Homo sapiens: one gene and its partners. The protein of the gene in region 1 interacts with the protein of each later gene in a biochemical or structural test. Each region holds a gene or a part of one and is shown on either strand. Other genes may lie near its edges.

Region 1 (7,049 bases):
GAACATTCATCAATCCCTCACTAGGATCTGTTTCAGTGTCATAGGAGGGCTTCCTTTAAAAAGAAAACATATACAACAATGGGGAAACGAAAGCACCGGAAGATACTATCATTCAGGTTGTTAACACTGGCAGGAAGTAGAGGGATAAGAAGGAAGACAGAGTACCCAAAGATATTTACAATCAAAACGGCACGCACAAATTCATCTTAATGAAAACAACACACACGTATCAAGCATGCACACACTTGGTGCACGAAAGAGGTCATCAAAATAGTTAGGGGCTATTTTTAGGCACAGGGATTTCCCATGATTTTTTTTTTTTTTTTTTTTTTGAGACAGTCCTGCTCTGTTGCCCAGGCTGGAGTGCAGTGGCGCATCTCGGTTCACTGCAACCTCCGCCTCCCAGGTTCAAACAATTCTGTCTGCCTCAGCCTCCCGAGTAGCTGGGATTACAGGCACATGCCACCATGCCCGGCTAATTTTTGTATTTTTAGTAGAGACAGAGTTTCACCATGTTGGCCAGGCTGGTCTCAAACTCCTGACCTCAGGTGATCCGCCCGCCTCAGCCTCCCAAAGTGCTAGGATTACAGGCGTGAGCCACCCCACCTGGCCTCCTGTGATTTTTGACAGGTAAAATAAGAATTTGATTTTCTAACTTGTTTTCATTTTTTAAAAGCATGTTTCCTCATAATTTGAAAAAAAACACTTGAGGGAAAATCATAAACATTACACATGGATGTACCCTGAAGCTCATGTATTTTTTAATTAGAAAAACTCTCCTCTTAAGCCTGAGATACACAGATCTGGGCCTGGGTCTTGAATTAATTTAGTCAGTACCTTTAGAAGATGAACTGACCTAGAACGCAAGTATCATTGAATACACATTTTTAAAAGGTCATTATTAAGAAGGATAAAAATATTTTATCTTTTTCACTATAAACCAGTGACAATGAAAACTACGCATCAGAAGCATCTGAGAAATTTAAAACATACAGGGGTACCTAAGCCCCTCTCAAACTACCGAAACAGAGTATCTGGGAATGGGCACAGTTATTTGTATAGAAGCACAACTGCGCCTAGGGTTAAGAACCACACTAAAGAGCCAACCCTTAACTACAAAGACCTTAAAAAGCAACTTGCTGGACGTGCCCTCTTCAGGTAGTTTGACAGTTGAAAGCAGAAATACATTATCCATAAAGACAAACTATTAAAAATCCATGATCTCAAACAATACACTAAAATTCTTTAAAAAAATGGAAGTAGACTCACTCTTTTTCTTTGCACTCCTTTTCAACCTGGGTCAGGTAATCCCACCTTGTGTTTTCCACTTTCTTTCTACACAATATAAGAACTGTATCAGTCTTGACCTGGAAGAAAAGCAGGAAAACAAATACAGCTTAGAAGACATGGAGATAAGCATGAATATTTATAAAACAATTATCTATTCAATTGATCAAGTCCCTAGTATGTATAGACTTATTTTGGGTGCCAGTAATACTTGTATGAATAGGCCAAAATCTGAACATTCATGGTGTGAAAAGACCATAAATAAGTAAAACTTGAATACCCTGATATCCTGGAAAGTGCTATCAAGACAAAGCGGGTGTTAATGGGGGGTGGGGGCAGGAACTTCATTAGGAAGGCCTCTCTGAGGCAAATCTGAGCCGAAGCCTAAGGTCAGGAGAAGGCAGTTGGCAGAGCATGCAGAATGGCTCCAAGATGGGATCATCTTGGTGTGTTTGAGGAGCAGGAGGAGTGGCTGGATTTTAGTGACTGAAAAAGACAGTAATATAATAAGAGGGGTCGGGGATAGGCAAGAAACCAAGTCGTATAAGGCAGTATGGGGCAAGGTGAGGCATTTGAAAGTGAGAAAGAAGGGCAATGTACAGGTCTTTTAAACAATGATCAATACTAGGGATCTTTTGGTACTCTACCTATGGGACTAGCGGATGCAGAAGGGTGCAGTAAGACAGCGAATCCAACTATATTTGAGTATCACCTGTAAGCTGTTAAGTAATTATGTATTATAAAAACAGATGGCAGAATGTCATGTCTATATACCTAACGCATTAAACTTCATTTATTCACATTAGGCAGAAAACAGGGACTATCTGATTTAGTAAAAATTACAAAGAGTAGTTTTTAAAAGACAGTTTCCTTATTTTTATAGCTGCTTCTAACTCCAAGGAGGCTAAGTGCTTAAGACCTCCTTTTATGTATACGAGTATTATGCACAATGCTAACACTAGCATTAATTTAAGCACTTTACATAATGGTATTGCACTTCAGTGTATCATTTCAACTTTGTGAAATAAATTATTACTATCGCATAAATGCAGAAACTGAGGCACAGAGTGATTAAGCTGCCAAAGGTCACAAACAATAAGCTGTAAACCTGGCATAAAACTCAAGTCTCACTCTTAACTACCTTCAAACGTTTACTTCCTCCCTGATTTTAATGGAATATTCTTACAATAGCCTATTCTACAAAAGGAGTTGGCAAATGTTCTCTGTCGAGGGCCGCATAGTAAATATTTTAGGTTTCATTTAGGGCCATATGGTCTGCTGTAGCCACTTAACTCTGCCATTGTAGCACAAAAGCATCCACAAACAACACATGAACAAATAAGCCTGGCTATGTCCCAATAAAACATTCACAAAACAGGCGGTGGTCCCTGTTACAGAGGACAAATTCATTCCAGTTCATCTCAGTTCTAAATCAGCCAGGTTCAATTTGGTAAGGTTTCACAATATTACAATCAAAAAAAGCACACTCACTTTTTTTGAACTGCCTTCCACAGAGATGGGTTTCAAGAGATTGTTCACAATCATGGAGTAACTCTTCCCATTTAGATTCTTTACCAAAAGATCAAATGACCTGCAACACAATGGTGAATACATCATCTTTCTAGTTCTATGAAAGGTACCCTTACTCCATAGTTCTTGTGGGAAAAAAGCTGCTGGCTTTATTTCAGGGTGTGCATTTGGCCAGTTAACGCTCACCTCTTCAAAGTAGTTGTAAAGGATAATTAATTCTAAATTTAAGAATTTTAAAAACTGCAAAGAAGAGAGTCTCAAGATAAGGCAATGTTGACTGTTAATTCACTGTCTTTCCCATTATAATGAGAACTCACCTCTCTGTGAAATGCACCTGCACATTCTCAGTGGGAACTTGATGAACTCCAGTTAAGGTAATGTAGATTTTCACAAACTTATCTGACTGATCCCATCCTGGCAACGACAACAAAAGATGGGACGTAAGTAAGCCTCTGAAACTATCTTTAGAACAGCAAATGCACATGGCTCATAAGTCAGGAAAGTAAAATTATGAAAATCCAGTCATATAAACATGAAAAAATTTGAAATATAAGAAATTTTCTAGGTTGAGAAATGGAGCCTCAAAGCAGTTAAGTACTCTACCCAAAGCTAGGCATCTAACAAGTGGTAGAATTCAGATTCAAATCCAGGTTTCTGAATACAAAACCTATGCTCTTTTTATCCCTCAGAATAAAAATATGATCACTAAATACATTCTTTAAGATTAGTTCATTTACAGCTTTTATGGAAACAATTTTGTCCGACATCTAAATATTGGTAGTTCTCCACTAAGCTGGATGGCTAAGTATCAATACTAATTCCATAACCATTTCTACTTCTGTAAGTAGTCAAACAAATGGAATCCTAGCTCTCTTAATTCCTTTCCAGGGCAAAGTAGAATGTAAAAGACTCCAATTCTTCATCCAAATCTGACAAACCTACTGGTATCTGTTAAATGCCATTTCAGTATGTATTATCAAACTACCAGCACGTCTCTGACCTAGAAGAACTCTGTCAACATAAAAGACATATATATAAATACTTCACAAAATACCATCACATTTGTAGAAAATAAAAAACTTCACAAAAAAGCATCTTCTGTTTATCAAGAATATATACATACATATCCCTGACTATTGCTCACTTAGTCCTATAGAATAGAAACATGCCCCATCCTCCATGACGTTTTTCACATTGCATGCCTATATCAAACATCTCATGTACCCCATAAATATATACACCTACTATGTACCCTCGAAAATTAAAAAGAAACAGTGTTGATGAAAAAATGCCCTAGTGGGGTCCAGAGAACTTCATTTATTAATAGTTTCTTCCCATTCAGTCAGTCCATCCTCCGGATTGACAAGTTTCTCCCTCAACACAAATCTATGTTCCTGGTTAAAATACCATAATCCTCAACACCTTCAGACCAGTTTCCTATACTCAACTGAGTACACGGTGCAATTTCCTATATTACTATATAGTACATCTCTTAAGCACGACATACACATGCTTTTCACTATTAACAATATTCAAAATAGATCATGCCTTCCAACTCTCTATTCACATTCTCTGCTCATGCTGTTCCCCTCCTTTTTGACTTGCTGAATGTACGACTCACCCTTCACACTCAAATCTCTCTAATTCTCCCTGTTCCTCACCTCCAGAATTATTTCTTCAGCTATGTTACCTATTATGTGCTAGACATTATTAGCACAAAGAAAAACAAGACTGTCCTTGCTCCAATGAGAGCTCATCATTCATATTCAAGTTGCGCTGCCGCCAAAACAAAAAACTGTATACACCATTGAAGGAAAACAGTATTACTACATTGTTATACTACGAGTTATACGTCAATGTCCCAACCACAACATGAGCAAGGACTGGGTCTTAGTCACTGTTGTGTATCCGTAAGTCAAAGCACAATAGTGATACACATTAGGTGCTCAAAAATATTTCCTGAATTTAACTGGATTCCTCTCCTCAGTTAATTGTGGTGGTTGGCAGAGTGAAACATAAAACATGATTAAAAACCACCACCACCACCACCACCACCAAAGCTGTGTCTTATACTGAACAATTTCAGAATAAGTTCCTTCCTTGTTGTTACATTTTGTAGTGAATCACCTTACTCTTGTTAACAGCTTCTAGAACGCATCCTTTCCTATTTATATCTTAAAAAAGTTTTATTAAATAAAAACTGATGGGTCTTGCTCCAAACCACCAAAAACACAGACTCAAAACTCATTGGGGATGAATTTGTTAGACCACTATGAGGAATAGGTTGCTCGGAGGCAGAACTGGCTATAGGGAAGCAAGTCATACCATAATTACTGATTTTCACCGTATAGCCCGTTGTAATGGGAGCAACCACAGCAGCTGGTTTTTCATTATCAAGAAGTTCTGCTTTCTTCTGTGATTTCTGTTGCATCTTGTTCTTGATTTCTGTCTCAATCTTGGATTTTTCAGCTGTAAGGGCATCACGTACTCTTTTCCTAGTAGCCTTTTCCAGCAACACCTTTACCTCTTCTAGATCTTTCTGTAGCTGTGTTAAGACAAAAAATAAGTTAGCTATGATAAATAAGGAAATGGCTTGATATTGTGCGTATCACTCATTTCAACTTACTGAAATAAGCACTAAGAATTAAGAAGTTCATCTAAATTTTCTAGGATTGAGTTGCAACTTCAATTCTTCCATCTGGCTTATTAACTGTAATTAACTCAAGCTTCCTTTTTTTCAAAAGGAAAACTTTGAACAATCTTGAACAAACAATAAATAGGTCTTCAAACCTAAATTTTCCAGTTTATGTTTTAAAATATTTACAAGAAACGTCTGCGACCTAAAAAGTAAAACAAAGAACTTTTTTTTGACAAAGGATTCATAGATTTCCTTGTAACATCTAATCCGAGTGTCATTAGATGTTAGACACTTTTAAAATATTTAAGAGATGAGAGAACATGCAGTGACCATGGTAAAATGCTTTTATAGCAAACTTAACTGAGGTAATGAATGCTCCACTTTCTGTCACTGATTGGTCTTCATTATCTTCCCACCTCAAATACCTCACATAAAAAAAGTCTTAATTTTTAAGACAAAAGATAAAAAAAAAAATTTCTGCTTTTGAGGAAAAGTCTTGCTCTGAAGCTGGGTCAGTCTTACACTCAGAAGTGTAGGAGTTGGTTGCACAGAAGGTGACAAAAGACCGAAAATGCAACATACTCTTGGAAATTATCTTTTGAAAAAGCCACCACGTTCTCATTTTCTTCTCTTGCCAATCCATCATCTATTAAAGTCTACTACTTTCTACTTTCTAGAGATAGAGGCAACATTTTATGAAATTCAAGAGTTAAAGACAATGTTAGAAAATTATTGAGCCTAAGTTTTTTTTCCCCCAATTACCCTCTGACATACTGCAAATACACAAGATCTTTCCAAACAGCTGTTTCACTTTTCTTACAATAACTTTACACTCTGGCTTGACACTACCAACTTGACCAAAAAAATCTTGTGTCACAGCTTGATATCAAAAGCTCAATTTAAAAAAGTCTTTTAGTGCTTTATAACTCAGAATATCAGACGCACAACAGAGTTTGAAAGCCTGTTTCTTAATAGTCTTATAAAATGCAATAACAGAACTAATTCTTTTCTTTTACTACAAGTCTTTTGTTATCTCATTTAACTCAGATGCCCTAGTTTTGCCTATCTATAACAGATGACATGGTATAAAAAGTTCAACTCTGGCCAGGTGCAGTGGCTCACACCTGTAATCCCAGTACTTTGGGAGGCCAAAGCGGGTGGATCACTTGAGGTTAGGGGTTCGAGACCAACATGACCAACACGGCGAAAGCCCGTCTCTACTTAAAATTCAAAAATTTGCCGGGTGTGGTGGCACGTGCCTGTAATCCCAGCTACTCGGGAAGCTGAGGCAGAAGAATCGCTTGAACCCGGGAGGCAAAGGTTGCAGTGACCCGAGATCGCGCCATTGCACTCCAGCCCGGGCAACAAGAGCAAAACTCGGTCTCCCAAAAAAAAAAAAAAATCAACTCTGCCCAACCCTCTTGTCCACACTCTCGACCCTTCCAAGAACAGCTCATATTACTATGACAAAAAATCTTGCAAACTCATCTTTTGAGCATAGAACCAAAATGTTTCAGTTCAAAGTAATATTTTTATTGTAATGGTTTCAAAAAAACGCTGATTCTACAACTCCTAATTCATAATAAAAATATTG
Region 2 (7,000 bases), on another chromosome or scaffold:
ATCTGTTCCCACATCCATTTCTTCATCTTCGTCTTGCTCTGTGTCTTCTGTTGTGTCTTCTGCTGTCTCTTCAGGTTCTTCTTCGGGCTCTTCTTCCACCTAAACACAACATTTATGGGCCCATTAATGCCTTGGATTTATTTCCACTTTGCTCATTTATATGTATAAAATCATAATTAATGTCACTTCTGTTTATTCAGAACCACAGACTAAATCCTCTTAACTAGAATGAACAGCCAAGCTAACAAAAGGAGGCAGGCAAAAAGGAAAGAGGACGTAAAAGGAGGACTTAGTTTCTAGTGCAGTGCCTGACACTACAGGGATTCAAACATTCAATAAAATTCTTTCAAAAGGTAGAAATTAGGCAAATGTCGCAAAGCTACATCCCTCAATCATGAGAGGCCTATTCTGAAAGAACAGAAACAAAGAAAGCCAGCCAGCCTTTGCGGGAAGGTTGGGGATACAAACCTTTGCATCAGGGTCAATGTTCAAACTGAGGCGAAGCATTCTTTCTATTCTATCTCCATATGCTTTAGTGTCTGGTAAAAGATACCCTGACCGAAGCGTTGCTGTTTCAAACAAAACCACAGCAAGATCCAAAACTGTTTTATCATCTTCATCTTCCTGAAATGCAAGAAGATGCACTAGATTAATATTAAAAGATACAAAGTACTCAAATTAAAAGACAAGCAAGAGGACTGCTTTAATACTACCTTAATTCGTCGAAGCATGTCTCTGATCAGCGGGTGTCTGGGATTAATTTCAAATGTTTTCTTCTGACTCGCATAGTAACTGTTAAGAGATAAAAATGAACATTAACAAAACATATCCAATTTTAGGGTTCATACGTTTCCCTTATTCTTTCATAATTACACAGAACAACTCTTGGTAAAAAAAAAAAATCAAAATGTACTATTGACACTTGAACACCACAGGTTTGAACTTATATGCTATTTTTTTTCCAATAAATACAGTCCGCCCTCCGTATGTGCAGGTTCAGCAACCAAACTCAGATAGAAAATACCGTATTCTTGGGATGTGGAATCCACACACACAGAGCTCCCACTCTTCATATACACGGGTTCCACAGGGCAGACTGGGGGACTAGAATATTTGTGGATTTTGGCAGGGGTCCTAGAACCAATCTCCCTCATACACCTAAGGACGACTGTACTTTTCCAGTCTACTTTATCTGCAGAGTCAATCAACCTCGGATTGAAAATATTAGAAAGGGCAAAACAAGAAAAAAATAAAAAACCCAATACAGTATAATAGCTATTTACATAGCACTTAAATTGCATTAGGTATTAAAAGTAATCTATAGATTATTTAAAGTACATGGGAAGATGTGCATAGGTTATATGCAAATACGGCACGACTTTACCTAAGGGACTTGACTATGTGTGGATTTTGGTATCCATGGGATGTTCTGGAACCAACACCCCATGGACAAAAAGGGATGACTGCACTGTTTCCTTATTTAGTTTTTATAGAGACAGGGTATCACTATATTGCACAGGCTAGTCTTGAACTCTTGGCCTCAAGTGATCCTCTCACCTCAGCCTCCCAAAGTGTTGAGATTACACACGTGAGCCATGTGCCCAGCCTGTATTGCTCCCTTTTAACGGGGAGGTGGGGTGGGGAGCAAGTGGACACGGTTAGATGAAAAATGAAATGAAGGGAACTATTTTATTTACTGATGAGTCCCAAGTACCTGGAGCACTGCTGAACAGACGAACTGATTTAATGTCCTGTTTGTTCCCTCTTAGTTTATTCTTACTACCGTAATTGTAGCTCTGCCTCCCCAAGTTCAGAAAAATCTATGTAGCCTCTGGATTGTGCTCCAATAATAATACCTTCTCCACGATGCCTTCGCCAATGATTCCAAGAAAAATTAACTTTATCTGAGCTCAGTTCCAAATGCATTTTGAATATACCTTCAAAATCCTTAGCTTTTTACTGTTGGTTGTGATTATTCTCTCTTCTCTAGTTTAAAGCTCTGAGGACAGGGAGGAACCACATCCTTCCCTATCCTGGTGTACCCATTATCTATGTAGGGCTCGGATTATGACTTGCTTTTTTTCCTCTTTTTTAAATAAAAAAGAGACGGAGTCTGGCTATGTTACCCAGGCTAGAGCTAGAGTGCAATGCCATTACAGCACACTACAGCCTCGAACTCTTGGAATCAACTGATACTCCTGCATCAGCCTCCTGAGTGACAACAGGAGTGAGTCACCATGCCTGGCTTTGATTTGTCATTTTCACTAGTCTAAATGTTAGAAAAGACAGGAGTTATGTCTACCTGTGACCATCAGTGCATGGACATAGTAAGTCTTCATGTTTGTTGGATGCAAGGTAACTTCCTATTAATCATTTCCTGAAATTAATAGGTGGACATGTTTTAAATGGCCCTTGTACTATTGCAATGGGATATCAGATAAACAGAACACTATTCTCTGCATGAAATTTATAGTTAAAAGACATATATGGAATTTTAGAATTGTGACAACAATGGAGACTACATTTGTGAGAAAAGGCTTTAAGAATAATAATCCTGGCCAGGCGCAGTGGCCCACGCCTGTAATCCCAGCACTTTGGGAGGCCGCAGAGGGCGGATCATGAGGTCAGGAGTTCGAGACCAGCCTGGCCAACATGGTGAAACACCGTCTCTACTAAAAATACAAAAATTAGCGGGTGTGCTGACAGGTGCCTGTAATCCCAGCTACTCAGGAGGCTAAGACAGGAGAATTACTTGAACCCAGGAGGCGGAGGTTGCAGTGAGCAGAGATTGCGCCACTGTACTCCAGCCTGGGTGACAGAGCAAGACTCTGTCTCGGGGGAAAAAAAAAAAGAATCCTTAAGCTAGGCCTTGGGAAAAAAGGATGATGACTAGATAGCATATCAGAAACATACTCCAGGTGAAAGAAGAGAGAATAAAAGTAGGGGAGAAGTCATTTTCAAGATCATTGCTGTGACATTAAAACATAAACTTGAAATACTATATTTCTTGAAAATAAAGAGTACCAAAGACTCACTATACCTCCAGGTATAGGCCCTTGAGTTCAAATACTGTTAATTCACAGGTCCTGTACCGTCTACTTTATGAGACATTCTATCTGGATACCCATAATTTAATGCTTGGGGGTGTGGGGGACGTGATTTGAAATGGACTTAACTCACTTGAGGAATGTTGTCATTAACCTCGTGCAGCTATTACATTTAAAAATGTAAAATAAATTCAGATATTAGGCTAAGCATATAATCCAATGCAAAAGTAAAGACTATGCATAACACATTAAGAAAATTCCCATTTACATATCAAATACAATAAAATCAGAAAATCATGAGTCAAAGACCTTTTCTTTCTCAATCAAATGTAGGAGAAATCCCTTCGTAAACTTGTTGTCTACCTTATAGTAGACAGTGGTAGACATTTAAGGCAATTTTACTCTTTGTATTGAAGCTGGTATTATCTCCAAAACAAAGATTGGGTAAGGGGCAACGCCCTGGCAGGGACTTTCCCGAGGATGCTTACTTTGTAGAGATGTCCTTGCCCGTTTGGTACGCTTGTGCTTTCATGATTCTCTCCATGTTGCCAGACCATCCGTACTGGCTGGCCACCAAAGCACACGGAGATTCTGTCAGGCGCTGAGACACCACAGCCTTTTCAATCTTAGGGAAAGAAATCAAGTCATATAAATTAATATCAACAGGTAAGGTCATTGAGCAATTGTCTTTCAACTGTCTAAGACTTTATCACTTAAGATCATAAACACAGAAGCAGGTCATAAAAATAGCTTTTCTTAAGGTTTAGGAGAATTTGTAGGGGCACTTACTTGATAATCTGAATTTTCTAGTCAGAAGTTTAAATACCACCTTTTAAAAACATAAAATTTAATTTGTAACAAGTTATTAACAAAGCAGTATTGTCGAAAGTTTTAAGCTTTCTCCCAATAATTTAATTACATTAATTAAATTTTTACCATTCTAATGGTTACAAAGTAACCAGCTGCAGCTTAATTTGTTCACAAAATAACTTTCTCTTAAATGCTGATACTAATATTTCCACAATTTGTAATTTCCACAGTACCTTGTCCTTAAGGGCTTTATCTTTCATCCAATTCAGCAGAGGCTCAAATTCTTTCTCAACTGCTTCACGACTCTCCTTAGTTTTCTCACTTTCATCGAACTTCACTCCTTCCTTGGCAACATTCTGGAACCTCTTCCCATCAAATTCGGGAAGGGCCTGAATACAGTATTCATCCACAGGTTCTGTGAGGTAAATAACTTCATAGCCCTTTTTCAGAAGTCGCTCAACAAATGGAGAAGATTCAGCCTACAAAATTAAGAAGTCACAAAGTTTTCCAAGTCTGGCCCTGGTGTATTTGTTTATCCTAGCAGCTGCTATGTTTATACATTATTAAAAACTCCATTTTACAGGTGAAGAATTAAGAGGTTCAGAGAATATAAATGACCTTCCTGTCAGTGACTGACCAGGCCTTATAACTACTCCAGTTACACAATTAAGTTTTCCTTTTCTCCCCCTCAAGAGTTGGCTATAAATCCCTAGCTACCTTCCAGAATGGCTGACAACACTTATGAGTTCATCTCACCTCTTTTCTGCTGGACCCAGCCATGAAGTAGATTTTGTCTTGTTTTTCCTTCATTCTTTCCACATACTGGTCTAGGCTAGTAATGTCAGTTGGATGATGAGAAGACTGGAACCTAAGAAGTTTAGCAAGACGTGTTCGATTCGAGTGGTCTTCAATCACACCAAGCTTGATGTTGGTACCAAATTCTTTCCAAAAAGTATCATTGTATTTATCATCAGCAATCTTCTTGATCATGTCCAGCGTTTTACGAACAAGCTTCTTCCTAATCACCTAAACACAATGAAAGAATAACTGATTAGAGAAGTTAATCTCCAACTTTTGAGAATGTAAGGTACCCAGGCAGGAGTGTGAAAAACACAAAGACGATATCGTTATTGCCATTTATTGAGGGGCAGGAAATGGTGAAGCACTCCAATTCATTCAGATTGGGCTGAAATTCAGCTGTCCGTGCAAATAGCCACAAGATTGCCTTAATGTTTATATTCTAACCTTAGGACTCAGTGATACTCTCTCTCTAGCATCTAAATGAAGTGAACAAATATGCTACTTTCAAATACTTTTAAATTCAAAAACTAAAGAGTCTTCTAATTATGGAAGTATTGGAGGGGAAAGGTTTAATGAAAGGCTTGATAAAAAGGTGGCTATGTGTCTAGATGACAAAATGTTAATCCTGGACCTGTACAATTCTTTAATTTTTTTCTAGATGTTTGAAACTTCATTATTAAATGTTGGGAGAAAAAGAATCAGATTCTTAGGATCTGATAACTCCAGAAAGAAAGGAAATTCATCTGAAGAATCATGGACCAGACCCAAAATCTGGTTTTACTCCACAAATGGAGCCTGTCCTCTGAACCCCAATCAAACAGCAAAGTGGAGAGTTTCTTCCCAGAGACACTTACCTTAAGCAGTTTATGTTGCTGAAGAGTCTCGCGGGAAACATTCAAGGGGAGATCATCTGAGTCCACCTTCAGATGGCAAAAGAAAGTTCAGTGAGCAATAAAACCACTGGAAGAAAGCAAAGCCAAACAAACACTCTACACTGCCAGACCCCCACAACAATCACCCCTTCTCCCAAACTTCAGATACTTACCACACCCTTGACAAAATTGAGGTATTTAGGCATCATATCATGGAAGTCGTCTGTGATGAATACACGGCGCACATAGAGCTAAAGAGACCAAAAAAAAGTCACTTTCTGGAAATTAAACTTTCAAATTTTAAACGCAGCATGTACTACTTAAAAACTCACCTTAATGTAATCGCTCTTTTTAGATCCATATTCGTCAAACAGACCACGTGGAGCAGATGTGGGTACAAATAAAATTGATTTGAAGGTAACTTCCCCTTCAGCAGTAAAGTGAATATAAGCCATGGGGTCATCACTTTCCTGTGGAAAGTTGGTATCTTAGTCATTCAAACGACACAGGAGAAAAGCAGTGCAAGAACTAAGCAATGTACTATGTGGTACATATTCAGTTTAGCAATTAACTAACAAAAAATTTTCCTTTACTGGCGGGAGGTGGGGAAGAGAAAGAAAAGGGTGGGGGGAAGAGAAAGAAAAGGGTGGAGTGAAGAAATATCTAGAATTGCAATTCTAATTCACTAGACATGGTTGTTTTGATGATGATTGTCAATAACATTATTTCCTAAACTCTCAGAAGGAAGGATGAGTTTATACTTCTTACGTATGAGAGAAGTGAATAGGAAAACCACCACCCTGCCTAAATGACAAAATTACATACAACACTTCAGTGTGCCCTTGAACTACAGTAAGTACTCAAGAACATGTTTCTTCCATGGAACTTAGCTCTAAGAGTGGCTACAAAGATGTATGTAAATACCTGTAAAACAAAGTTGGAAATTCTCTTGATCTGCATTATCTATTACTGTATATGGCTGTTAAGCACTGAAATGTAGCTAGTTCAAATTCAGATGTGCTATTAAAGTGTAAAATACATTTTGAAGGCACAGTACAAATTTTAAAAAGGATATAAAATGTCTCATTATTAGTTTTTATATTGATTATGTTGAAATAATACTATTTGGGGTATGCTGGGTTAAATAAATTATACTATTAACATTTCATGGTTCCTTTTTTTGTATGGCTTCTAAAAAATTTCAAATCATGTGTGGCTCACATTAATTATATTTCTAATACAGCTGCTTTATATGAAGTAAGTTTATAGACACTAGGACTTTAGAGTTTATGGAAATAAAAGTGAAGGCAGAACCAACAGTGTTTTAAGAGTTGAAATTTAAAGGATATGGAATAGAGAAAAGAACAAATACAGACACAGAATATTAAGTTTTATTTAGCTATGGTTAAGTCCACTAGAGCATTCTACTGCTTGTACTAAATGCTGCTGGGGAAACATTAACTTTAAACA
Region 3 (3,293 bases), on another chromosome or scaffold:
CTGTGTCAAAAAAAAAAAAAAGACTTTTCTTGGGACAATTAGGGTAATGTAAACATGGGTTTGTAGTAGATTATTCATTATACATTGTTAATTGTAAACACTTGTTATTTAGGTAATGTCAAAAATATTTTTATTTTTCCAATGTATATACTGAAGTAAAAAATTAAGACAATGAAGCCAGGTGCAGTGGCTCACACTTGTAATCCCAGCACTTTGGGAGGCCAAGGCAGGTGGATTCCTTGAGCTCAGGAGTTTGAGACCAGCCTCAGCAACATGGTGAAACCCCATCTCTACAAAAAATACAAAAAATTAGCCCGGTGTGGTGGCGCATGCCTGTGGTCCCAGCTACCTAAGAGGCTGAGGTAGGAGGATCACTTGAGCCTGGGAGGTGGAGGTTGCAGTGAGCCAAAATTACGTCATGCACTCCAGCCTCAGCTACAGAGCCAGACCCTATCTAAAAAAAAAAAAAAAAAAAAAAAAAAAATTAAGACAGTGTATCAAAGTCACTGAAAGAGATGAAACAAAAAAAATTTTACTAGTATTAAAACAGATTAAGACAATTCCAGGTGCAGTAGCCCCAGCTACTCCAGAAGCTGAAGTGGGAAGACCACTAGAGCCCAGGAGTTTGAGGCTACAGTGAGCTATATGATGGTGCCACTGCACTCCAGTCTGGGTGACAGTGTTCTTTCTACTCCCTCCTTCCCCCAGTTCTCCTGACCTTAAAAGTTTAGAACAGGTTGGCAAATTTTTTTCTGTAAAAGACCAAGTATTTTAGGCTTTGTTCCAGCTACTTAACCCTGCTGTTGTAATGTGAAAGCAGCCACAGACAATATATAAACAAGTGGGCATAACTGTATTCCAATAAAGTTTTTTACAAAAGCAGGCAGTGGGGTTGTAACCTGTAGTTTGCTGACCTCTGACCTATAACAAGTAACACTTCCTGAAAAGCCTTTCCTGATACCCATCAGAATCAGGAGCTTTATCGTCCTTGGCTCACATATTACTAGTAAATCCACTTAGCACATTTATGATCCCTTATTATATATTCATCTCCATTAGGGACTAAGTTCTTTGCAGGTAGGTGCCATTTTGCTACATAAGCCTCCTCATGTTCACTCTAGTGAGTATCTCACAGGGCAGACATTCAATGAATATTTGTTTCTAAAAATCGTATCTTCTGTAAAAGGACAATATGACACCATTCATAACATTCACAAGAATGAGCAGCAAGTTCTAAAAGTAATTTTAAAGGAGTTTAAGGGGGGAAAAGCACTGCTAATGTCACTAGGATACATACATTGCCTCTTATGCTCTATACTGTGACATGCTTATCAGTATTTTATAAACATACCTTGTGTGCATAGAAGCGCAGACTCAGCACAGAAATGCCTTTTTTTTTTTTTTCAAGCCACTAGAGTATCAAGAGTACTATTAGGTTTACATCAGGTGCATGATAAATGCTCAAATTTAAAACAAACTTCTGGGAGGAGGAAAAGATATCCCTTTTTCTTTTCTTTTCTTTTTTTTTTTTGAGACAGGCTCTTGCTCTGTCACCAGGCTGGAGTGCAGTGGCATGATCTCAGCTCACTGCAACCTCCACCTCCCAGGTTCAAGCGATTCTTGTGCCTTAGCCTTCCAAGGAGCTGGGATCATAGTGGCGTCCCACCATGTCTGGCTATCCTTTTTCTTATGACAGGGAAAGGTAGCAGCAAATACTTATGAAGACTGGTTTTTTTTTTTTTTTTTTTGAGACGGAGTCTTGCTCTGTTGCCCAGGCTGGAGTGCAGTGGCGTGATCTCAGCTCACTGCAAGCTCCGCCTCCCAGGTTCACACCATTCTCCTGCCTCAGCCTCCTGAGTAGCTGGGAGGACAGGCGCCTGTCCGGCTAATTTATTTATATTTTTAGTAGAGACAGGGTTTCACCATGTTAGCCAGGATGGTCTCGATCTCCTGACGTTGTGATCCACCCACCTTGGCCTCCCAAAGTGCTGGGATTACAGACGTGAGCCACCGTGCCCGGCCTATGAAGACTTTTTTTTTTTTTTTTTTTTTTAGACGGAGCCTTGCTCTGTCGCCCAGGCTGGAATGCAGTGGCCCAATCTCTGCTCACTGCAAGCTCTGCCTCCCGGGTTCACGCCATTCTCCTGCCTCAGCCTCCTAAGTAGCTGGGACTACAGGTGCCTGCCACCACGCCCGGCTAATTTTTTGTATTTTTAGTAGAGACGGGGTTTCACTGTGTTAGCCAGGATGGTCTCGAACTCCTGACCTTGTGATCCACCCACCTCGGCCTCCCAAAGTGCTGGGATTACAGGCGTGAGCCACCGCGCCCGGCTATGAAGACTATTTTTATAAGTAAATAATTATGAAACCTCTGCAAGTACATTTCCCTCCTCACATTTACGTTCTTAGCTAGGAAACACTGGGAGGTAGAGACTTCTCTGCCTGCAAAGGAATTCTAGATTCTAAAGCAAAGTTGCTTGTGGGACAAAGGAAAAAGATATATACATATCTTCTGTAGAAATTATCCCAAAAACTCAGGACCACTCAGGGAAGACATGGAATTTAGGATAAAGGCAGACCCTGGGAAGCACACAGTTCAGATCACTAGAGAGCTTTGGCTGCTACAGAACAGGAGATAGGAGGGAAGAATGCAGGAGGGTACATGGGAAAGCAGCTGTGAAGTGCACACTACTCCCAGACATCCTCCTGAAAGAGAAGTTAGCACTAAGATAAGGGTAGGTAACAAAGTAAGGAAGAAAGGGAATTAAGGTGAGAGAAAGGCAAAAGCAGAGGGGAAACCTTCTCAAGAAAGGGAGTAATGCTGAAGAATTTAGAGAGTTGAGTAAAAGGTTTATTATTAGTGCAGTCAACACCATGGAACAGCACATACAACACAACCAGCAACCTGCAGAGACACTAGTGCAAAGGGTAGGGAAGCCTTTCACTGAGCTTCCTGGCTCCATCTGAGGGTAAGGACAGGACAGTATGAGCCTTGGTTAAGGCAGGTAGGGGAAAGGGGAGTGGAAGAAATGTAGTAACCAGAGTAAGTATAGCAGCGTTTTCAAATTCCTGAGCACAATGTCCCAGAGCTGGAACCCTACTCCCCTCAAGCTTTCCACCCCAATCCCAGTGGAGCCATGATCCAACTACCCAGACCTGCAGCAAGCTAGCCTGGAATAAAATTCTGAGAGGAAGCCATTACATGGTGGGGAGGAGCCTTTCTATCTCCAACCACACTCCCACCTCCATATTAAAATAATCACACCTATTATCTCTCCCCTTCTCTTACTCTG
Region 4 (7,289 bases), on another chromosome or scaffold:
GTGTCATTATGCAAAGCCTCTGACCAGTTTGCTGCAGCATTTACATCTGCCCTAATCAGAGGGGCCACCTCTAACTCCTCCTCCTCCTCTCTTCTCCTCTGGTTTGCGTCCTTCCTGGGTTGGGCTGGAGTCTGGACTGGCTGAGATAAGAGCCTGGCAACCAGCAAGAGCTGGGCTGTATTTGGAGATCATGGGCTGATTCCATGTTCTTGGGCAACAGTCCAGAAGCATCAGGGGCTCCGGCCTGGGATGTTTCTGAACTTTGGGAGTTATAGGAGACAGGAGGAACTTCTCCTCCTCCTCCTCCCCTACAATTCCTTTTCACATATTCCTTTCTTCTCCCTCTTGGGTGACCTTCCAAAACTCTGCTCTCAGGCTGAAATCTGGCATCATCTCAGGTTCCCTGTCCCCAGCACTGTCCCCATGGAGCTGGTGGCTGACAAAGATGTAGTTTCCATCAGTCAATAAAACCTGAGAGGAGAGATGAGGACTGAGAGTATCTCCTGGCTCTGTGGGTTTGGGGGCTGGGTTGGGCTTGGGGGTTGAAAACACTCTGATTTCAATCCCTTTTGGCTAGGAGAAGGGCTGGTATGGGTCAAGGTATGGGAGATGGATGGTTGGTGATGTATTCTGGAAGATGGGGATCCAGGAGAAATGAAAGAGTGTGGTTTGAGGAGTTCATCTACAGCCAGTGAGACAGGCCAGGGGGTCCTGAGACATTCCTCCTTGGATATCATCTGCGCCAGCTTCCTGATTCACAGATCGGGAAACTGAGACCCAGAGAAACACATAGTTAGTTAGAGGAGGCTTAAACCCAGGCTTCCTGACAGCAAACAACCCTGAATTTAACCCTAATAAAAGCATCACTTTGTTTGGTGAATTTCCCTTCCTTGTGGACGCCCCCTACATTCTCTCTTCTGGGCTACTGGCTACACTAGGCTAGTGTGTGGCTGAGTTCTATAGAGCACTGAGCAGACAGACCATGGATTCAGGTTGATCTGGGTTCCAATCCCTGGGTGAGAGAATCACTTACCTTCTCTTGCCTCAGGTTGCTAGTCTGTGAAATAGGGATAATTCATTTAGTCACCAAATATTTATTAACTTCCATCATGTGCCAGCCCTAGGGATACAAAGGTGGGCAAAGTAGACATTGTCTCTGATGTATAGTTGAGCATGGAAGGCAGACAAGTAATTACAACATGGTGTGGCAGAACTAAGATCCATGTGTTATAGAGGCATGCAGATGGCAGGAGAACTTAACCTGGCCAACACACAGGGAATGAGTTGGAGTTAGCCAGGCAGCAAATGAAAGGATGCAATGTTCTGGGCAGAGGGAACAGCATGTGCAATGACCTGGAGGTTGGAGAGTGAGCTCAGGCCTTTGGGGAACTGAAAGTAGTTCAGTCCAGCTGGGGAGGAGAGTGTGAGGCTGTGAGGAGAGGAAGGATGGAGAGGTAGGCTAGATAATAAAAAGCTTTGAAGCTATGACGCGAATTTTAAACTTCATCCTAAAGATAGTGGGGACCTCTAAAGACTTAAACAGAAAACTCATGATGAAGTTTGTGTTTCAGAATGATCATTCTGGCTGTGGAGAGTGGATATAGAGAAACAGTCCTGGAAGGAAGAAAAGTAGGGTGGAGGCTTTTATAATAGTCCAGGTGGTAGGGGACAGTGGCTTGGACCAGAGTAGTGGCAGTAGAATTGGAGAGTCTAGAGATTTGGGAGGCAGAATTGGCAGGACTTGGGATTGACAGGCATGTGGGAGTTGAGGAAGAGGGAGCAGTCAAAGTTGACTCCCAGTTTCTGGCTTGGACGACGGCTGGATGGGAGTGCTATTCCCTGGTAAAGGGAACATCAGAGCTGTCAGCACTCAGTGCTAGGTACATAGTAAGTACTTGGTGAAGGGTAGCCATGATTGCTATCATGAGTTCAGTTTTAGATGTGTAGTGAGTGAAATATATGGGGCTGGAGTGAGATGATCATGAGAAGATTCAATGTGATAATGTGCATAGGCATTTGGCACAGAGCCCTGAACACAACAGGCCCGGTAAACGTGAAAGTCCCCTCCTATTAAGTCTCATGAGCAGAAAACACTACTTAGAGCCCATTTATTACTTACACCTTTCAGGGAAGAATTTCAACTAGGGTTAGTATCTCAAGGGAGGCAAGGCTATACTCAAAACAGCTTTCCCATGGTCTCTTTCAGTCAACCTGTTGTATGGTTTGTCTCCTAAGACTGGAAGTGAACTCCAAATACCTTCTTGGTTCATCAGCTCATCTGAACCCCATAACCATTCCCTGAGGTAGTCTGGGCAGGTATTATCATTCCTGTTTTACACATGGGTAATCTCAAAAGTGACACAATGACTTGCTCAAGGTCATACAGTTGGTAATGGTCCATCTGTGCCTGGAACTGAGGTCTTTCTGGCTCCAAAGCCTGGGATCCTTCCACTGCACCACCATGCAGACTACTTTATTGAACACTTCCTATGTGCTGGGCACAGCACCAGGCCCTTCACAAGCATTAATCTCTGATCCTCGGATTAGAATTATTGCCAATTTATAGAATAGAAATTAAGGATGGGTGCTCACTTCGCACCACATATACTAAAATTAGAACGATACAGAGATTAGCATGGCACTATGCGAAAGGATGACACGCAAATACGTGAAGCGTTCTATAAAAAAGTAAACAACAACAACAAAAATTGAGGACGGGGTGGGTTTTAAATGACTGACAAAGATCACTCAGACAGGAAGGGCAGAGCTAGGATTAGCGTGTAGCTCTCCAGCTACTCAATAGCAGGGATTCTGCCAACCCCATTTTGAGACGCTGACTGGTGACAGAGCTTTCATAAACCTCGATCGACCCAAGCAAACTCAGTTTTAGAAAAAGGCTGGGCTTGGCCAGGCGCGGTGACTAACGCCTGTAATCCCAGCACTCTGGGAAGCCGAGGCGGGAGGATCGCTTGAGCCCGGGAGCTGGAGATCAGCCTGGGCAACATAGTGAGACTTTGTCCCTACAAAAAAGTGAAAAAAAAATTAGCCGGTCGTAGTGGTGCGCGCCTGTGGTCCCAGCTATTCGGGAGGCTGAGGCGGGAGGATCGCTTGAACCTGGGAGTTGGAGTTTGCAGTGAGCTATGATCGCGCCACTGCATTCCAACCTGGGCGACAGAGTGAGACCCCTGTCTCAATTAGGAAAAAAAAAAAAAAAAAAAAAAAAAAAGGCTGGGCCGCGCCTGCGCACTAGCCATAGGGGCGGGGAGGTCAACGCGAGGCCGAGAGTGCTGTGGTGCCAGAGAAGGCGTGTCTGTTTCCCAAACAACCACTGTCCCCACGGCGCCTGTCTGTCCCAAGGTTGGTCGGTATGCCGCGAGTGACGGCGTCTCTTAACCAATCACCGCAGAACTCAGGCTGTTGCCGGGGCGAAGCGGTGTCCGCCTCCCCCGGAAGGGTATTTGTAGGTGGGTGGGACCGGAAGTGACGCTACAGGGGCCAGCTATGCTCCCGGGAGTGTTGATGTTTTCCAGTCATTCCGGCTGACAGCGTTCAAGTTGGAATCCTGGAGGGGAGGTGTTTTTCCTGTCGTACGTGGGACAGGCCACGCTGTCCGTCCGCAGTACCGACGCCTGCAGGTCAGAGCTTCGGGGAGAAAAGTGAAGAGCAAGACGGAACTGACGGGGAGAAAGGCTGGGAACCAGGGTGTCGACTTTGACTGAAATTTGAGACGGAGGGCACCGGAGGGCGAGCACTCGCCTGTGATTGGCCCGTGGGCGTCGTCGAGGTCCCACGCAGCTGCTCAATTGGTTGGTGTTGCAATTGTTGTGGCGGCGGCGGCGGCGATTTTGCCCACGTACTTCCGAGTAAGGGGCGGGGCTGTGCCCTGGCGCGCGTGCGCAGCGCCCCGGGGCCCCACCCGGTAGTGCAAGAACCTGCGAGGGGGCGGAGCGAAGAGGTGCTTGTTTTGGTTCTGTTTCCTTTGAAGCAGAAGGCCGGAACAAGCGTAGCAATAAACTTGCTGGACTTGGAGAGAAGGCTAAGACAAACTCGCCGCACTGCCTTCATCTTGGACTTTACATCCGGGTTCTCCTCTCGGCGTGACCCGCGCGCCGCCACCGCCGCCGCCGCCGCCGCCGCCTCCTCCGCCGCCGAGGGTTCTCGAACCGGTGCCGCGATCCCTTTATCCGGGTCTCGCCGTTCCCGTCGTGCCTCGCGCACTACACTAGCCCCCTCATCCGGGTTCTCTCCCGGCGTGCCCCGCGCCGGGTTTGTTGGGGGGTACTCGGCAGTGCAGCCATGACTATACTCCCCAAAAAGAAGCCGCCGCCTCCCGACGCCGACCCCGCCAACGAGCCGCCGCCGCCCGGGCCGATGCCCCCGGCGCCGCGGCGCGGCGGAGGTGTGGGCGTGGGCGGCGGCGGCACGGGCGTGGGCGGCGGCGATCGCGACCGTGACTCCGGCGTCGTGGGGGCCCGTCCGCGAGCTTCGCCACCGCCTCAAGGCCCGCTACCAGGACCGCCGGGCGCTCTTCATCGCTGGGCGCTGGCCGTGCCGCCTGGTGCAGTGGCGGGTCCCCGGCCACAACAGGCTTCTCCACCTCCTTGCGGGGGCCCAGGTGGTCCCGGCGGCGGTCCCGGCGACGCGCTGGGCGCAGCGGCGGCGGGTGTGGGTGCCGCGGGCGTGGTGGTGGGTGTGGGTGGTGCCGTAGGCGTGGGCGGCTGCTGCTCCGGGCCTGGGCACAGCAAGCGGCGACGTCAAGCTCCCGGGGTTGGCGCGGTTGGCGGGGGCAGTCCCGAGCGTGAGGAGGTCGGCGCAGGCTACAACAGTGAGGACGAGTATGAGGCGGCTGCAGCACGCATCGAGGCTATGGACCCTGCCACTGTCGAGCAGGTAAGAGCTGTGGGGTGAGGGGTGAGCGGCCACGGCAGATGGGACCCCCAGACTGTGAAGGGACTCAAGGAAGGCTGTTTGAGATCGCCCCAAGGGATCTAGGCGTTTTCACTGGGCCTGACAGTCTTCTCTGGCGGTAGGGATGTGAGACACCTTCTTTCCTCCCCTCCAGGATTTTGGGGCTAGAGGCCTACGGTAAGGTGTCAGACTTAAAGATCCGAGGTCTCTTTTAAGGTCTATAGTCGTCATTCCAGTCCCTGGGACCTCATCATATAGGGCCAATAGGTGGGAATTCTCCAAGAGATACAGGTAGGATCGCGCCCCTCTTGAGTAGGAGTCTCAGGTCTCCCAAGAGACTTAGGTATGTGTTCAGTGGCTTAAGAGCTCTTTTCCTCTGGGATAGAAGTTTGAGATTCCCCTTCCAGGAAAGTCAAATAAGGTGGAGACCTCGGAGATCGGGGCTGAACATCCCCAAGGAGCCTAAGCCCTTTCAAGAGTCTGAGACACTCTGCATATAGGACAATCCTCTCCCGCTTCGCTGGGTAACACTGCACAGGACCACTGAATAGCCAGACCTGAGACCTCAAGGGTCCTAAGTCTGTCTTCAGGGGCCTGAGAGTCCTGCTTCTAGAATCAAGGTCCTGACACACACACACACACACACGCCCCCTTTAAGGATAGGGATCTTCTAAGCTTTTTCCAGGGATGTAAGACTTTTCACAGGGAGATATGATTCCCTTGCCCTTGGGGACAGGGACCAAAACCAACACCCAATGACCAGCAGCTTTACTTATCTCCTTTCTGAGTGACAAAGGTCTGCATTTCCTATCAGTGGCCTGAGACCTACCTCTTGGGAGACAAGGGCCTGAACCGCTTCAGGATCTTAAGCTTCTTGTAAGAAGAGATGGGCCCTCAGCACCCCCACCAGGGGCCTGAACCTTTCTTCAGGAAAATGAGACTCACAGCGTTGGATCCTAGGGCCTAAGATCCACCTGCTTATGGACTGAGGTTTTTAGAGACCGAGTCTGAGGCCTCTTCAGGGGCCTGGTGTCCTGCTGCAAAGGTCTCAGACAAGGTGAAGTCTTTAGGAGATCCTTCTTCTCAAGGCTGGTGTCTGAGTGGTTTTGGGGATCTGAGACTCCCCACCCCACGAGCATATGTGACCCTTTTACCCCAATTATAAGGAACTGAAACATACCTTGGGGATACAGTATCCCATTTTCCCCTCTGTAACAGGGGTTTGAGGCCCTCCCACCTTGGGCCTAAGCTTTTTGTCAGGGACATACGACCCATGCCTTGGGAACTTGAGCCTGAGACGACTACTCAGGGGACATGGGCAACATGGGATCCCAGAGATGATGTCTGGGGCCTCCCTACAGATCTTTGCCTACTTTTAAGGGCCTGAGACCCACTCTGCCAAGGACACTTGAGCTTTCCTTCAGGGACAGGAGACTCATACATACCTTGGTGACTTGTGTGTCTAGAGGTAAGGTCTGAGCTTCCTCCTCAAGGAACTTAAGATGTACACCTGAGAAACAGGAGGACTCCTCCCCCCAGACCTGAGCCCTGAGACTCTTCCCTTGGGGCATGGATAAAGGATCCCTGTGGAACAGGGTCCTGAGTCTACCTCCAAGGGTTTGAATCATAACTCAGGTGTGTGAAGGCCTGTTCCCCACCTTAGGACCTGATTTCTGAACCTGCCCTGAGGGTACTGTCACCTCACCTCAGACAACTTACATACACCCTAGTCTTAGGGGTCATTTAGGGACATAAGACTTCCTGCCTCGGGGACTTGGGCCTTAGACTCCCAACTCCTTTTGGGGACATGAATAGGGTAGGATTCTGAGGAAAAGAGTCTGGGCCCAAGCTTTCTCTCTGGGACAAGATACCGTTTGCCTTAGGGACTGGGGGCCTGGCTCCCACTTGGGCATGAGGCTCTCCTCCTACCACACCAGGCAATCCTTTCTGTCCAGGGAGAGGAACGTGAGGTCATCCTCTCCCATTGGACAGAAGGACCTGGATGCTCTTCAGGGTCATATGAACCCCTTATCCAGAGCTCCCTCGTGGCCAGGGCCAAGAAGGTCCTCCTACTTTCTATGAGAAGATTGTCAGGTCCTGGGGACATGGAGTCTGGAGCCTCCCTTCTGAAACCAAGAGCGATTCCGAGTCTCTCCCTGACCTAGCTATGCTTGCTTCTCACCTCTAGGTCATATAATAAGTTTTGAACTGCTTTTGACAAGCTTTTTTCTTCCCAGGGACAGGAAAGGGGTTTGGGACATCGCCACTCTGGGGAAATTCTCCTCCCACATTCCTTTTCCCCTTGGCTCAGGTAAATCTTTCTGTACTTCACAGGGGCCCCAAGCCTTGTCTTGAGCTCCTTGTTCTTGGTCCCTTCCTCC

What was found.
Region 2: the proteins of CACYBP (region 1) and HSP90B1 form a complex in vitro, tested with the Homo sapiens proteins (one study listed by BioGRID).
Region 3: the proteins of CACYBP (region 1) and RNF41 form a complex in vitro, tested with the Homo sapiens proteins (one study listed by BioGRID).
Region 4: the proteins of CACYBP (region 1) and OTUD5 form a complex in vitro, tested with the Homo sapiens proteins (one study listed by BioGRID).

What each region holds. Positions count from the first base shown.
Region 1 is NC_000001.11:175,002,927-175,009,975, reverse strand, and holds part of CACYBP (calcyclin-binding protein), read right to left. Parts: intron 5,363-7,049; coding exon 5,143-5,362; intron 3,232-5,142; coding exon 3,135-3,231; intron 2,879-3,134; coding exon 2,779-2,878; intron 1,368-2,778; coding exon 1,270-1,367; intron 54-1,269; coding exon 1-53. UniProt on the Homo sapiens protein: May be involved in calcium-dependent ubiquitination and subsequent proteasomal degradation of target proteins. Probably serves as a molecular bridge in ubiquitin E3 complexes. Participates in the ubiquitin-mediated degradation of beta-catenin (CTNNB1).
Region 2 is NC_000012.12:103,940,410-103,947,409, reverse strand, and holds part of HSP90B1 (endoplasmin precursor), read right to left. Parts: intron 6,001-7,000; coding exon 5,863-6,000; intron 5,782-5,862; coding exon 5,704-5,781; intron 5,579-5,703; coding exon 5,513-5,578; intron 4,884-5,512; coding exon 4,614-4,883; intron 4,337-4,613; coding exon 4,091-4,336; intron 3,673-4,090; coding exon 3,536-3,672; intron 793-3,535; coding exon 714-792; intron 625-713; coding exon 469-624; intron 100-468; coding exon 1-99.
Region 3 is NC_000012.12:56,201,672-56,204,964, forward strand, and holds the end of RNF41 (E3 ubiquitin-protein ligase NRDP1), read right to left. Parts: 3' UTR 508-3,293; downstream 1-507. UniProt on the Homo sapiens protein: Acts as E3 ubiquitin-protein ligase and regulates the degradation of target proteins. Polyubiquitinates MYD88. Negatively regulates MYD88-dependent production of pro-inflammatory cytokines.
Region 4 is NC_000023.11:48,954,578-48,961,866, reverse strand, and holds the start of OTUD5 (OTU domain-containing protein 5), read left to right. Parts: upstream 1-4,259; 5' UTR 4,260-4,296; coding exon 4,297-4,890; intron 4,891-7,167; exon of another isoform or gene 7,168-7,219; intron 7,220-7,289. UniProt on the Homo sapiens protein: Deubiquitinating enzyme that functions as a negative regulator of the innate immune system. Has peptidase activity towards 'Lys-48'- and 'Lys-63'-linked polyubiquitin chains. Can also cleave 'Lys-11'-linked ubiquitin chains (in vitro).